2 separate regions of the Homo sapiens genome follow, and region 2 is linked to region 1. A link means that fine-mapping ties the variant in region 1 to the expression of a gene that starts in the linked region. Tissue or cell type: whole blood. Region 1 holds a variant in brackets; the other region holds the start of a gene. All regions are shown on one strand. Distances are from middle to middle.

Region 1 (8,104 bases):
TTGTCATCTGTGTGTGTGCCCCATCTTGACTTTGAGCTCCACACAGGACAGGACTCTGACTCATCTTTGTTATAGATCTCAGTGAGTGCAAGGCACGAAGAAGAAGGGGTGTCAATGAGTGCTTCATAAATGAATGATTGGATGAATGAATGAATCATCTGTTTCTCCACTTCCATTCTGTGGTCTCCGGCCAACATTCCCTCCCATTTACCTCTCATTAAACTCTTTTTGCAGCAGCACTTTCTCTTAGTTCTTCCTGTCATTTGCTAGACTTCAGCTTTGTGATCTTTGGGTCAGACACCATGATGAGAGATGCAGATCGCAACTGAGCGTCATTTAAATATTCAGAAGAGCTGAGGCTCCGCAGGCTGAATTCTGAATATGCAGATAATTCAGAAAACACTGGAGCAATAGACTTGTTGAATTCAAACTCGAGGTGGAGCAGACGAGGGTACAGCTCGGCTTAGGTGACCCATCGTCCCCATCAGCTGCTCCTTCCCAAAGCTACGGCTCCCTCGGCCTTTGAGCTTTCAAGCCTCAGCCTCGTGTGTTGCTTCAGTGGCAGCTGGAACATTCCTCCCTGCAGCCTGCTCCTCAGACGCTTATCTCACCCCATAGGGCCCTGCTCCATCTCAGTCTTGGATGGGGTTAGCAGTGTTTTCTGGATCAAAGTAGCTTCTTTCCTTGTGCTGTATTTAAACTTTGTGGCGTAGGCATCAGTTTCCCTAATGCCTCTGTTATCCATCTTGCAGGTCTACAGTATTGAGAGACAGAAAGTCAAGAAGTTCTGGACCTGCCAGGAATTCCCACTGTGGAAACAAATCCACCCTCCTTACTTCCTGGAGAGGGGCAATTCCTTCAGGAAGGTCTTCCATGAGCCTTACATCAGACTTTGTCCTGAACTCCACCCACAGCTCCCCTGTCTGAGCGTGTCCCATTTTCTCTGGACCTCTTTCATCTCCAGTCCCAGACCAGCATCCTCCTGCATGTGCTTCTGAAAGTACAGGCCACTCCTGCATCCCTTCTATACCTGGGTCGCCAGGAAACTCACGGATCCACTTTTGACGCAGTCTGTTCTGCTCTCCCTTCTCAAATCTGCCCAGATCTCAGCTGTCCCCCATGGTCCTTATCAAACTCCCATCTACAGCCTCTAGAAAGTGACTTCTGATCATTTCCTCTATCGTGGCCCTGAATGGCAGTCACATGTACCCTTCATCTGTTTGGCTCTTGCCCCCTGCCAGACCCAGCAGCAATTCCATGCCCCTGTCTTTCTGGATCTCAGCTCGAGAGGAGTTTGAGGTGCGTGGCTTGATTTTCGCCCATCATTCTGTCCTGTCTGGCTTGCATGCCTTACCTTTTCTTCACAGGAAATCCCATCATTCAATCCACATGTTGCTTTTCCATGTACCAATATTAGATTTTCCTAGTGATTCTTTTCTGATAGTAAGTCCCAAATCTGTCTTTTAGCCAATCTTATCCCTCCCTGATCCTCTGAGAAACCAGACTCCTAGATACGGACCTTTCAAATGCTTCTTTGCTTCTGGGCTTTTAATAATCCCCCTGAGATTATTCACCAGCTAAAGGATGGTGGGGACAGAACAGCACTTGACTGATAAAGGCCCCCATCCTCCTGGTCTGTCACTCTCACATCCCACCGTTCCCTGGGGTACCCCCTGGAGGCCAGCACACGACCTCTCCAGATCCCTGTTGACACCACTTGTTGGGGAAAGGCAGCTCGAGCATCCCATGGACATCCGTCTGAAAGGTTGGCCCCAATCTGGTTCCTTCCTTGATGGAGGACGACATTAAAAGAAGACAAAGGAGAGAATTTGGGGTGACTGATCTATTGCTGCTTAGGCCAAGTCTAACCATTGAAAGTCTCCAAATCTCACACCTAAGGGTCCCTAGCTCTTGTAGAACACCACAGAGATTTTCCAGTTCAAGGTTTTGGTCTATCACACGATGGGAGAAAGCTGGCAAGAAGAAAACAAGCTGTGGGAATCAACAATTGTTTTACTCACCAAAGATTAGGAAGCCTGAATAACAACATCACCTCTTTTGAGTACAGCCTCACATAGAACTGAACTGAATAGAAATCATCTCATTTTACAATCATCAGACATCTGTCTTTGCCCCAGTCCTGGCTGCTGCACCCTCACTACGAGCCCTGGATTGCCACGTCGTCCCTTGGTTCCCAAATCCTAGCCCGTGGATATACATTTCTTATCCTAAGAGTCACCCTACTATGTGAGGGTTCTGGGAGCAGCTTTGTTCCTGGGAATCTGCAGGCACCTTCCTGCCTTCCTGCTGTGGTCGCCAGGCACAAGGAAAGAAAGAAGGGTCTCGCTTATTACAGTAGGGAAAACATGCGATGAATTCTCTTCTAACCCTGGTGCAGAAATTCTCCTAATGAGTCCTGGGGTGAAACGCAGGCCTGGAAGCGAGGTGAGGCTCCTCCCCACCAGCATCTAAAAAGCCGGCTCCCTGGAGCCACAGGATTTTTCCAATCAGCCATGGGACCAGGGCAGCCCACCAGCCTCCCCAGCTGCCAGACGCTGGTAGAGAGACCTGAGACAGAGGGCAGGTGAATGGAGCGGGAGAGGAGGAGAGAAGGGACACCAGATGGGGTCTGAGGAAGAAAGAAGGAAGAAAAAAAGATACCTTGATGGGGAAGGGGAAAGCCTTAATCTGCTTCTCAATCGCGAAGTAGGTCTGCTTCTCAATCATGCAGTAGGGAGTGAAAAGCACAGGTGGGGCTTTTGAGGCTCAGGCACTCCACCCACCAGGACAATGCGGACCCCATGACTGCAGAGCCTAGGCTCTGCAGGGAGCAGCTAGGGAGACACTAGTAAGGGAGGTGGGCAGGGGGCAGAGGCCCCTTTCCCCCACTGCTCCCACGGGGATGAGGAGGGGGCTTCCGAAAAGGCCCAGGTTAGGGGGCCTGCCTGCTCAGCTCACATCCCCCTGGTGTGACAGTGCCTTCTTTACTCTGTCCTCTAGCCCCCGGGACCCATCTGAGTCTCTCCCCTGGAAATTGGAGGACCTGAAAGAAAACCCTTGGAGGCAGCAGGCAGTGGAGCTGAGGCCTTGAGTGTAGCTCGTTCCCTACCGCTGAGAGCCCTGAGGCTTTCTGGGTCCCTGGTCTTCCCTAAGCCTGTTTTTAAAAAATGTGCACGCACGCCCACCCACCCAAGGATTTCTTTAATTCTGTGAGCTTTCTCTCTGGATCATTCAAATATATGCCTCCACTCTTGAGGTAGCGGGAAGATTTTTTAAGATTTTTCATTTGTTTTTGTTTTTGCATTTGCTTTTGTCTTGGTTTTGCTTTGCTATGTTCTACTTGCATCCAAAGGGTCCTACCTAATAGAAAAATTGGCACCAAAGGGTTGGTTGCAGACCACAAAGCCTCAGGATAATTGGTACAGGTAGAATCATGTTTTGTGTTGAGAGGTGGACAGAGCAATAGTGAACCCTTCTCACCCCCCTCATTCTGGGGAGCACCTGCTCTCAGCTTGTGGAAAGGGGACAAGGAATGCTGGGACATGAAGCAGGACCACTCACTTTGGACAAAGGCCTTTGACATTTCTCCTGAAGGCGTCCAATAAATTGTGGCTGTTGATATTTTTGGCTGACTCTCCTATGAAAAACAAATTCAGAAACCGTTTCTATAGGTTTCTGGTTACATGATGAATTTCATCCTCACTAGATCTTCTAAGCGCACATGAGGGCCCTGATGGGGACAGAGTGGTGTGCTAGTACCTCTCCTGCTGTAACAAAGCCCTACAGACACAGTGACTTGAACCAACACAAAGTTGTTCTCTTCCAGTAGAGTTCTAAAATCAAGGCATGGGTAGAGCTGCATTCCTTGGGGAGGCTCTGGGAGAAGCAATTCCCTTACCTTTTCCAGCTTTTAGAGGCACCTGCTGTCCTCAGCTCCTGGCTTCTCCCTTCGTCTTCAAGCCAGCCTTGTAGCATCCTCTGATCTCTCTCAGTTTCTCTCCCCTTCTATCATCTCATCTCCTTTTCTCCCTCTCACCCTACTGTCTCCGCCTTATAAGGACCCTTGTGGATACCTTGGGCCCACCCAGATAATCGCAGATAACCTCTCATCTCCAGATCCTTGACTGGATCACACCTGTGAGGTCCCTTTTATGATGGAAGGTGACATAATCACAAGTCCTATGATTA[G/A]GACACCCACATCTGTCAGGGGCTGTTATTTAGCCTAACACAAGATGTATTCAGAAAATTGCAATAGGGATACCTGAGGGGAATTGAAGGATCCCAACTCCAAGCCGCATCTAAGGATGCTTCCGAGGTGCAGCTCCCGCTGGAGGACTCTGCTCCATCTCTCTTCCTGTCTGCCGCTGCCTGCCTCTCTGTTTCTAGACAGCCAGTGTTCAAGTCAGTATGGCCTTGAGAGTGAACTGCAGAATGGAAAGGAGTGAGATGCTGCAGCAGGAGAAAGAGCTCGCTGTCAAAGCTCCGAAGAGCTGAAGACCATTTATTTGCATGGTGGGGTCTGACGGAGGTCGGCAAGGAAGAGGAATCATCATTTGGTTTCCTTGCCATGGTCATCCTCAGCTGGCACGGTTTGCTCCAGCAGCAGGCTGGGATTCCAGCTGTGCCCAGTGTTAGCCATGCCACCCTCAACTAAATGCTGATCACTTCTTTGTGACATAAAAAGCCAGAAATTAGTTGGCATGATGAAGAAGAAGGAGGACTCAAAGTGTGTAGGAGGCTGAAATGCTAGATTTGATTTCTCAAGCACTTCCTGCCCACGCTGTTTCCTGCCAGGGCCCAAAAGATTTCCCGCTCCTTTAACGAGAAGAGTCAATGGATAACCAGGAACTCTCTATAATAGGGGAGGGGCTGGGACTCTGGTCTCTTTAGGGTGGGAGAAATTCCAAGAGGCCGACTGTAGGGGAGGCAGGTAACTGCCAGAAGAAAAGAGAGTGCGGGCGCCAGGTCACGCACCAGGAGGGCGCATGATCATGGCTCAAGGGACATTTGATAGGAACAAGGTTCCAAAATAGAGCTGGAAGACAGTCCACTGACTTTACAAAACCCCCAATCTGGTGAGTGGATACCTGTCACAGGTCATCAGGCTGGATAGTCCCTGCTTGTCACCCAATTCTTAGGCCTGGGTCAGAGGGGGAGATTATAGGGCACAAGTAATTAGTGAATATCTATATTCGTTTACCTTTGATTAAGTCCATCAGGGTCCCACCCTCACCTGGTCATCATTTTTCAAATTCCTGGGTGGATAACTGGAAAGAATACTCTTGGAAGCTTCAGATTGTTCACCCAGACCCACGGACGGGGACTATTTCAGTGACATACGCCAGTGGAGGCCATTGGTTTTACATACCTGCCTAAATATTTTACTCAAAGTCAACACCAACTTCATGGAGGAGTTACAGAGGCAGTTACAGAGATTTCTGCCATCATCAAGATTTAAAGGGAGCAGAAGCAGTGATTCCTGTGACTCACCTGTTCACCTCTCCAGTGTGGCCAGTCGTCAACAGGGAAACAACTGTTTGTTTTCCAACCGCAGAACAAAGTAGGAAGCTCATCAATGGAAGTTGCCATTCCTAAGTTGTTCTTGTTAATGAAGCAAATAAACACAGCCTGCAGCTCTCAGTCTGTATCAATCAGGCTTCTTGGTCGAGCAGAGGTACCAACTCTGTTTTCTTAGGGCAGAAAACAACATGAAATTCACTGGAATGATACCAGAAGAACCCCACGTGTGTAGGAGGCTGGAAATTGGCTTGGAAGATAAATAGAAGCCAAGACAGTGAGACGGTATCGAAGGCTGCGAGCACAAGAGCCCTGCTTTGTGAGGAGTGACACGGCCACAGCGCTGCCCCGCCACCTGCGGACGTCATCTCTGCTGGTGCAGGACTCGGTCGTCCCCGTCTCTATTCCCCTCCCGGGCAGTCCTGCTGCTCTCACTGAGAATGGATTCTAAGCACCCTGGGCTTTGCCTCACTTGCTCCAGATTCAGGATCCCATGTGGAAGCAGCCAATTAGCCAGCCTAGGTCTTGTCCAGAAGCCCTGGATGCCAGGGTGGGGGTGGACAGAGAGTCATCTATTCTCTTGGGCATTACATAGAAGGTGGGACCAGTCTTTCTCTATGACTCCACATGCTGGGAAACCCCACAAAACTAGGAAGAGGCGAATAGATGCCAATCAGCTCCCTCCCAGGAAACTGGGAGTTCATTCCACCCAGAGGCCTAAAATGTTGACATGCCGTCTTTGAGTGTAGAGGGAAGGAAGCTAACTCCAATTCGCAAAATGACTAAATAGAGATAAATGACTGACAGCTCAGAAAAGACCATGAGGGCTGAATTCAGGTGCTTACACAGAGTCATGAGTACTCAGCATCTCTCAAATTGTGCTGTGCTTTCCGCCTGGCCCACCTGCTCCCCCCAGGTCTGGCCTGCTGTGGAACGCCTCTCAAGGACGGTTCCTGAAGAGCAATGGAGCACACCTCACAGTCCAGGCTGCCTGGAAGGAGCTGCATCCTCGGACCAGGATCTGCATTGTTTCCTGGGTAACAACTAAGGAATTAGCTGGAATTTCAACATTTTAGAAGGAATAAATCTGGAGGCTTGGTGACAAAGATTTTTAGGGAAGAGGAACATACATAGAGCTTTCAGAACAACGGTAGAACTAAAAAAAAATCTGTCCCATGTGAATGCTCATTGGAAGATGTCCACCATCAAAAAAGACTCTTTTTTTTTTTTTTTTGAGACTGGGTCTCACTGTATCGCCCAGGCTGGAGTGCAGTGGTGCAATCTCGGCTCACTGCAACCTCTGCCTCCCAGGTTCAAGCAATTCTCGTGCCTCAGCCTCCAAAGTAGCTGGGATTACAGGCACCCGTCACCATGTCTGGTGGCTAGTTTTTGTATTTCTAGTAGAAATAGGGTTTCACCATGTTGACCAGGCTGGTCTCCAACTCCTGACTTCAACTGATCCACTCGCCTTGGTCTCCCAATGTGCTGGGATTACAGGCGTGAGTCACCATGCCTGGCTCAGAGGCTGTTAATAAACAAGGGAAGAAGTCACTCTTTAAGGCTCAAATCTCCTCTGTTCCCCAGGCAGCCTGACATTTTCAGAATGGGCTCATTAACCAACTTGCCTAATGTGGAGCTCTATGTAACCACACAACACGGACCCCACTCATCAAGGCTGACCACTTGGCACCCAGTGAATCTCAACCCCGGAAATGACAGCCTTAGGTCCCATGGAAATGGCCCAAAGGGGACTCAGCTCCATATCAGAGGCTGGGAGCTGCCCTTAGGATGTGATATGTTTTGAATCCATACCCAGAATTTTCCCCATTTCCTGTAATAGCCAGAATTCATGGAGCTGGGCAGTCAGAGGTTAAGATGAGGGTGATAGCTCTATGGTTACCCACAATAAACCACTTTCAAAAATTTTGTTTATGATACATACTCCTAACTCACAGACTTTTAGGTCTGGAAGTTTCAGTATCTAAGGTTGACAAAAGTTGTTTCAGCAGAAACCATAGCTGGCTTCTCATGCTCCCTGATGTAGGGATAGCAATGACGTCACTGGGTTGGATATAATCATGCATCATGTTCCTCCAGGGAAGCTCATGTTGTTATTACACAGCAGGACAGGAGGAATTGAGGGATCCCCTAGGATTGCTCCTTGTAATACTCTAAAGTGTTAGAGTATTAGTGTAAATGTGAATAGGAAATTTCACCAACTTACTGAGGCCAGACCATCAAGGAGCTTAGACACCACGAGAATGACTTTGCCCATAAGTAAGAGGAACATTGAGTGGAACAATTCAAGACTTCTGATGGTGGCAGCAATGGTCAGTAGTGGCTGTAGCCTTGACCGTACCTCTTTATTTTCTACAAATATACACACACAAAAATTCTGAGACAGAAGCTGCCAATGGACCAAAAGAAAAATTGATCGTGTGCTGAGGCCCTCCTCCTGTGACATAACTTCAGCATGCAGAAGGTGGAGATGCTGTGTGTGGCTCTCACTGGGGAAGAGGCAAGTGCATTTGCCTTTTTCCTTGGGATGGCTGGGTTCATAGCAGATAAGGAGAGTTCTTTTTGTTTG
Region 2 (8,104 bases), 28 kb after region 1:
CATGAAATAGGTCCTACATTTAAAAGAAGAAGAAACAAATTCTTCTCCAAAAATAAGTAAATCAATCCCAAAGGGATCTAAGTGTACCCCAGAAAGAAAAAATTAAAACTATACTAGAAGAAATGTTAAAAACAATGTTGAGTTGGGAAGACCTTTCGAATCAAAACTCAATTCCCAGAAGACTTAAAGGGAAAATTGAATAGAGTTTTACCTCTTACAAATTAAAAATTAGAAAGAACATCATTCAAGAGCCAGAATAAAATGAAAGAATAGGAAGCACGGTTTGCAATACTTAAAGCAAAGGTAACTGTCCACAATCCACAAGAAATGCTCAAATCAACATGAAAAGACTGAAATCAAGTTTCTAAAAATATAGCCAGGTGCGGTGGCTCATACCTGTAATCCCAGCACTTTGGCAGGCCAAGGCGGGTGGATCACCTGAGGTCAGGAGTTCGAGACCAGCCTGACCAATATGGTGAAACTCTGACTCTACTAAAAATATCAAAATTTGCCAGGTGTGGAGGCACGCGCCTGTAGTCCTAGCTACTTGGGAGGCTGAGACAGGAGAATTGCTTGAACCCCGGAGGTGGAGGTTGCAGTGAGCTGAGATTGCGCCACTGCACTTCAGCCTGGGCAACAAAGCCAGACTCCATCTCATAAATAAATAAATAAATAAATAAAATTTAAAAATGGGTAAAAGATAGGATCTGAAGAAATAGAAATTAACGTTAACCATATGAAAAGGCACTCAAGCTCACTTTTGAACCATATATGTAAGTGATCACAGAGACATACGTTTTTGAAACATTAGATAAGCCAAACCTAAAGTGACTAATAATGTCCACTGTTAGGGAGGTAAAGGTGGCACAAGCCCCTTCACTGTTGATGGAGTGTGAAAGGTTCTGGTGTCCTGGAGGATCGTCAGCGATACTCAGCACACTTTACAAAGTGCCCCCACGTCATGGCACAGCACCCACTCCTAGGTCTCAGCCTCCAGGGAGCAGAGGGCAAGTGTGCAGGGACAGGGGCTTTAGAGGGTGCCATGCAGCGTTGTTTCTATCACCAAAAAGGGAGAAATCACTAAATCTCCTGCCATAGGGAGTAGGCGGGTCCCTAACACTATGCCCATTAAGACTAAGGAATGCGCCTGGCACGGTGGCTCATGCCTGTAATCCCAGCACTTTGGGTGGCGGAGGTGGGTGGATCACAAGGTCAGGAGATCGAGAACATCCTGGCTAACATGGTGAAACCCCGTCTCTACTAAAAATACTAAAAATTAGCCGGGCGTGGTGGCACGCCTCTGTAGTCCCAGCTACTCAGGAGGGTGAGCTGGAGAATCACTTGAACCCAGGAGGCGGAGGGTGCAGTGAGCCGATGGTGCTACTTGCACTCCAGCCTGGGCGACAGAGCAAGACTCCGTCAGAAAAAAAAGACTAATGAATGCGATGCCTCCCTTAAAGAAATGAGGAGGAAAAGAAGCTGCACAGAATCAAAGACCCTTCGAGGCCACGACACAGAGGTGAGAAACACAGGGCTCCATGAAGTGAAATCTGAATAGCAGGTGTGAGTGTGCGTGTGTGTGTGTGTGTGTGTGTGTGAATTTGTGAGTGTGTGTGTGGCATATGCAAGGTTTGCCTTTTATTTGGTTGCCAGCATGTCAAATGTAATTGCACCTGAGTTTATAGCAAATGTTCCGTCATCTGAGCTCTGAGGAGCCAGGCCCACCCTCTCACCTGCTGGGCATCACCTGGATCTGAGAAGCCCATGCAGGCCTCCAGCTCTCCCCACTTTCCTGCAGCCCCTGCAGGCATCTGGGCTGCAATGTCAACTTTCCCCTGACTCGCACTGCCCCGCCTCCCACCTCACCCCAGATGGGGTCAGCAGCCTGCTGGGGGTCAGCAGGGTAGGGCATCCTAACCCCCTAAGGCAGGTGAAAAACCCTGAGGCTCAGAGAGGGGAAGTGACTTCCCCAGTGTCACACACCTCTTGGAGGGCAGGGGGAAGGTCAACACCTGACCTCCTGACTCTGACATTGAAGCAAGAAAGTATAATGTTAATAATCCAAAATCTTCCAGGTTTGTTTCTGCTTCTACAAACACAGAGGGCTAAGCTCACGCTCCCACAGTTATGCTCACGCTTCCACAGTTTGACTTTTAATCTCATGATTGTCAAGCTGGGATCATGTGGCAGACACCATTCTGCAACATGCCGTTCTCACTGCCCCTGTCTGGGCCATCTTTCCCACTAGGGAACAGCACAGCTTCTTTCTTCTCTATCACCCAGAGGCCTGAAAAGGAACCAGGTGAGTGTCAGGGACATGGAGTCCTGTGATCTACCTGCTCAACTTCCTGACATGGGACCCTCAGCGAGTCACTCATCTCCCATGGCCTCAGTTTACCCACAGGGCCTGGCTCAAGTAGGTGCTCAGAGTCAGGGTGGGTGAAACAACCTCTGGGTTCCTTGTTATCTCTTTTCGCTCTCTCTCTCTTTTTTTTTTTTGAGACAGAGTCTCACTCTGTCAGGAGTGCACTCAGGCTGGAGTGACTGGTGCGATCTCGACTCACTGCAACCTTCATCACCTGGGTTCAAGTGATTCTCATGCCTCAGCCTCCCAAGTAGCTGGGATTACTGGCTTGTGCCACCACGCCCAGCTAATTTTTTGTATTTTTAGTAGAGGCAGGGTTTCTCCATATTGGCCAGGCAGGTCTCGAACTCCTAACCTCAAGTGATCTACCCGTCTCGGCCTCTCAAAGTGCTGGGATTACAGGCATGAGCCACCGCGCCCAGCCAGGTTCCTTGTATCTCAAAGGAAATCCTCTGTCCCCATCGGGCCTCAGCAGCAGCACCCTGGGGCCAGCCTCAGGGTGGCCAGGCCACAAGAAGGACAGGCCAGGCTCTGGATCACCTCCTGTCCTCCACCTTCTCTGGTTCCTCCAAATATTCTAAAGGAATGGACAGTCCCAACATCTGCCTTCCTTCTGGGGTCACCGGGCCATGTCTCACGCAGGCTGGAACTAGAGCTGAGCCCTAGGAAGCTTTGTGAACCCAGCTGAGCTGATTCTGCCTCTGTCTCTACTGTTTGGGGGCCCAGAGAGAGGGAGGGAGAAGTCCAGCTAAAACCTGGGTGCAAATTCAGGCTCTGCCATGGACCGAGATGTGACCTCAGTCAGTTACCTAACCTCTCTGAGCTCATCTACAAAAGGTGAATGACCCTTCTCTTATAGAGCTGCTGTGAGGATGGGGAGATGGGGAAGGTCAGACCACCCCTAACTTACCAAGGAAGCTTCTCTTGAAAGAGTGTGAGCAAGATCCAGCTGTTCTGAGCTGTGTGGATCCCACCTCCAGCCGTGCATCTGCATAATAACCAGACACGTTCTCCAGGCTCTGAGATATACCCTGGAACCCAAAAGGGAAAGTGAAAGTCACAACTTGGCAGCAGCTCCTGATCAAACATGCAAAACAGGATGCTTCCCAGCCCCACCCTTGGCCCAGTCCCATCCTTGGTCCAGCAGCACCCTTGGTCCCACCCTCCTGCTGATCCAAGAGCAGCCCCAGACGTCCTTCTTGGCCAACCCACCTGCCTCCCATACTTAGGGTTGGGGGTTTGCTGTGTCTTCAGGAAGAAAGACCTACCACTGAAAGACTATGAGACCCTCCAGATTACTCCCCACCCCCAATAACACCACACTCCCCAGATGCCCACCTCACTCCCTCCATGCCATCAGCATTACCACAGTCCATCACACATGCCGGGTGGACGCTTATTGCATATTGATTGTATTGCTGTTGGGGTTATTTTGTTGTTTTGTTTTGTTTTGTTTTTGAGATGGGGTCTGGCTCTGTCACCCAGGCTGGAGTGCGGTGGCACAATAATAGCTCACTGTAGCCTCAAATTCCAGGGTTCAAATGAACCTCCTGAGTAGCTGGGACTACAAGCATGAGCCACTCGGCCTGGCTACTTTTAAAAAATGATTTTGAAGGGGTGAAATCTTACTATTTTTACCAGGTTGGTTTCAAACTCTGGCCTCAAATGATCCTCCTGCCTCAGCATGAGCCACCGTTCCAGACCTGCTCTTGTCGAACGCCATACCTGTGTGGCTTCTGGACACTTCCTTATGTGGGTTCTTCTGCCAGGAGCACCTGCTACCTTCACCTGGAAAAGTCACGCTCCTCTATCAGAATGCAAATCTAGCATTTCCTCCCCTGAGAAGCCCCCTAGCATCCTCTTCAGCAGAGCCCACTGCCCCATGTTCCACTCCTGTGGCACTTTTGTTAGGCTGTTGTAATTGGCCACAGTCCCAGGTTGACTGAACAAAGTGGGGGGCGGATGTGGGAGTAAAAGACAAAGACAAAAGAGTATATTAGGAAGAAGGGGTCAGGGGGTTCCTTGCTTCTAGTGAACAAGGGCTCTGAGCTTTTCAAGCTCTCTGAGTTTATTAGGTAAAAGAGATGACGAGAAAAAGGTGGGGGGGTGATTGTCAGGTAATTGTCAGTCAGCCGTTTGGTTCACAGCAGGCTTGCAAGACTGCATCCTTCAAATAATAGGTGCTAGATATCCCAACAGATAACTTCAAGGAGCCCAGCACCAGGGAGTGATGGCCCTCAGGAAACCTTCTGGCGGCGGGTGCAGTGTGAGTTTACCCACATCCCGCATTCATGATAAACAGTTTGCTGTTTGATCATATAGCCTCCAGTGAAATGCTGAGTTGGTCACAATCCCTTTGGCCTTTTCAGCTCCCAACAGGCAGTTAAGTAGACATTAGCAGCTGGGAGGAGAAAAGAGAGCAGAAAGCCTGTCACTGCAACAGCTCCTGGCCCACCTAAGTTCAGCCCCAGAGCCATTCTAAGACCCCCCTAACTGATGAAGTTGGTGGTATAGTTTGTGGCCAGCACATCCTGAAGAAAGAGAAACTAGGGCACAGGTGGAAATTCCCTAAAGGGGCACATGCCCAGTAACATGAAACTGTGCCCTCAGGTCACCCCAAGTTCATTATACCATCATTATAATAAAATGTGGTTTTATTATACAAAAGCCCCAGAGTGGGCTTTTCTGTGAAAATTATGGGTAAAAACATGCATTGCCTAATTTTAGTTATATAACCATAAACTGCCAATCAGATGACATCGTCCTTTACTCAGACACAGCCCCAACCTCAACTTCTCTCCACAAACCGCACAGAAGCACCTTAAACTCTATATAGAGGGGCTGACTTCACTTCACAGAAATTAGCCCACTGTCCCTCTGAGAGTGTCTAACTGTGCTTCAATACACTTTGCTTTGAGCTTGCATTTTGGAGTTAGCCTGCAATTGTTTGCTCACTCTCAGAAGAACTGAGATTACTGGTCCAGAACTCCAGCTCTGTTAATCTCCTCAGTTAAAGGATCCATCCCAGCGCAGAATTCCTGGTAATATCTTAGTGCTGTGACCTGGATGATTTACGTTCAGCATGGCTTTTAATATGTGCTTGATTTTAGCTTGGGGAACTGAAACATATTTTGCTAAAATGCTTCCTTTCGCTTTGGGTCAAGATGTTTGTGCTATGTTTCGCTGCTTGGCTAAGAGAAGTTGCAATGAGTGTTGTATTTGCTGCATTAGAGAGGGGGTATATCCCCCAACATGCCACCAATAACTTTTAGAGAAGGGCTTAGAGAAATCTTCTCTGGATTTAGGTTTAATTAGCTGTTTAACGTGATTAAACAACTTCATTAGGTTGTAGTGGCCATTGAAGCCCAGAGCTTGTTAACAGCCCAGGGAAGCTTTGAGAGGCAAAATGGTTTCTTATGCTCTGGCCACAGAGCCAGGAATCACCCTCAACTCCCTTTAGACTGGGCATTTTGGCTGGATGCAATTTTTAAAATTACTGATTAAGAGAGCCGATTGGGATTCAGATCATGGGATAGCTTGGATAAATGCTAAGTTTAGAGGTTTACAGCCGGGAACGAAGGGTAGGCCCATAGTGGGTCATAACCTTTGGAGAACTCCCCAAATCGTCCTCGCCCACCCTTTTGGGCACTCACCCCACCCGAGGCCCCCTCCCTGCCACACTGCCATAGGCAGCAGCACAGCTTCTGAAGATCGTTTTGCAATTTTTTTTCCTTTTTCTTTTGAACAGAGCTTCATTTCTTTTCTTTCTTTCTAACCACTTTTATTCAGAATCTAGGGGACAAATGTTTTCAGCAAGGCTGTAGTACCCACTGTAGGAAGGGGTCTCCATGCTGGGCACAGCCATGGTCCACACATAGGTACAACTTGAGAGACACACAGACTGCCCCAGGGGAGGCGGAGCCTCCATCTAAAGAGCAGGGGACACTCTCTCCTGGTAATGGTCAAGGATATTGGGATGTCGAGACTACCTTGATCTCAGTGCTGTGTATTCTGGATTGCCAGCTGCATCCACACTCCTATGTAAAACCACAGAGGGCTGCCCAAACTGATGATGTCTCCACAGACAAATACACTTGTGAGACTTTAGTGGACCTCAAGCCTCTCTTTAAAAGACTGCCAAAAAATAAGTAATGCCCACTGACTTTCCCTAGTGCCTTTTTTTAAATATTAGCTTTAAGTTGGATTGTTATAGTTATTCTCATATATTTGCAGTTCAATTGCCTCCTCCTGAATGGGTGAAATAATTTTTTATGCTAAAATAGCTGTTTTAAATGCAGTAACCAATATTTTTGCTTTTTAAACTAGATTAACCCTTGCAATCATTTCTCCTAATGTTTTTTTCCAACACCCATATTTAGCTACCATCAAAGAAGTTTTAAAACCTTGTTTAAACACAACATCAACGGACTGCACAACATCACAGAAACTGTTGAATCTGTGTTTACACCTTCCCTAGCAGAGGTCTATCAGCCATTTCCATTCCTGCTTCTGAGTGGAATCAATCAGAAACATTTCCAGCCCCCACTTCTGTTAACCGACCAGAATAAGCTGTCAATCCTAGGGTCGAGCCCACAGTCAATTGCATACTCCTTAAAAGTCTATACCAACAAACCTGTTACAACCTCCGAGGACCTGTCGTCTATCTGTAATACTATCTGACTAAGCACTCCTTTGTCTTCTATCTTCATTGAGGATGAGGCCATTACTTGGATTTTTTCCTAATATTTCCAAGGCTTGCAATCACACTTGTACCCTATTTTCCACCCAATTATGTGTCAGCTTAGTCACTGACAACAAAAAATGCAAACATACCTGATATTCTAATTCTTCTTTGTGTTTTATTCATTTCCCAAGCCCCCCAACAGAACCACTATGTGGAAAGAAGCCAGCTATTCTGGATCTACCCTTTTCCCCAGACCCACACCAGAATATCATTTTAAACATAACAACTTCTGGTTTCAGTCTCACAACTTCGGGCAAAATCATTGCAAAAAACTGCAGCTCCCCATAATTTCACAATATTGGTTGGGATCCCATCACTCCTTCCTCTAATTGGGCTTTTGATTCCTCTTTCATTCTGTCAAGTACTGCCTGTGTTCCCCCATTACATGAACTAGCCTTGACTTCCACTTCTGAGGGTATTAAAGCAGACTTACACAGCATGGAAAAACCCTACTTTAGTATCACTGTTGATATTTGTCTTAACATGACAAATCACATTTTTGTATAGAAACAAGGCATATCTCTGCTTGTCTGCTAATTAAACGGGGATTTGGCCCTAGTTTACATCATCCCCAAACTCACTCTTATCGATAGCATTCCCCTCCCTATACACGCTCAATCTGGTAAAACTGAAAGAGGAGTTTTAACAGCACTGACTATAATTGGCGTTCTGGCTGGTATTGGCACGGGAACTGGAGGACCTCCTTAACTCCATTTTTACTGCCCAGAAACTCTTCTTAAAAATTACTCAACAAATTATTAATCTAACTAACCAGGTCAATACCCTTTCAGAACAAATTGCTTCATTAGCAAGCATAGTCTTATGAAATTGATGAGCTTTTAATTTGCTCACAGCCAATCAAGGGGGAGCTTGTGCAACACTTGATAAACATTGCTGTTTTCATCAACCAATCAGGTAAAGTGCAAACCAACTTAAAAAAATTACAGACAGGGCCAACAAGTTAATGGAAAACAGAGTTTCAGGAGGCTTTGACT

Evidence for each region. PIP is the estimated chance that this variant, and not a neighbour inherited with it, causes the effect.
Region 2: APOL3 starts here. The variant in region 1 is fine-mapped to the expression of APOL3 in whole blood (TOPMed, PIP above 0.99).

The regions. Positions count from the first base shown.
Region 1 is chr22:36,129,601-36,137,704 of GRCh38, forward strand. No RefSeq gene overlaps it. Among named protein-coding and RNA genes, the nearest start is that of APOL3, 27 kb to the right of the region's middle. RefSeq lists enhancers at 2,376-2,876, 4,603-5,802. The variant G/A (reference allele first, on the strand shown) is at 4,189.
Region 2 is chr22:36,157,394-36,165,497 of GRCh38, forward strand. APOL3 (apolipoprotein L3) reads right to left here and starts at 3,362. Exons shown (of 4, transcript NM_145639.2): 1 at 3,276-3,362. RefSeq lists enhancers at 4,281-4,854, 4,806-4,965.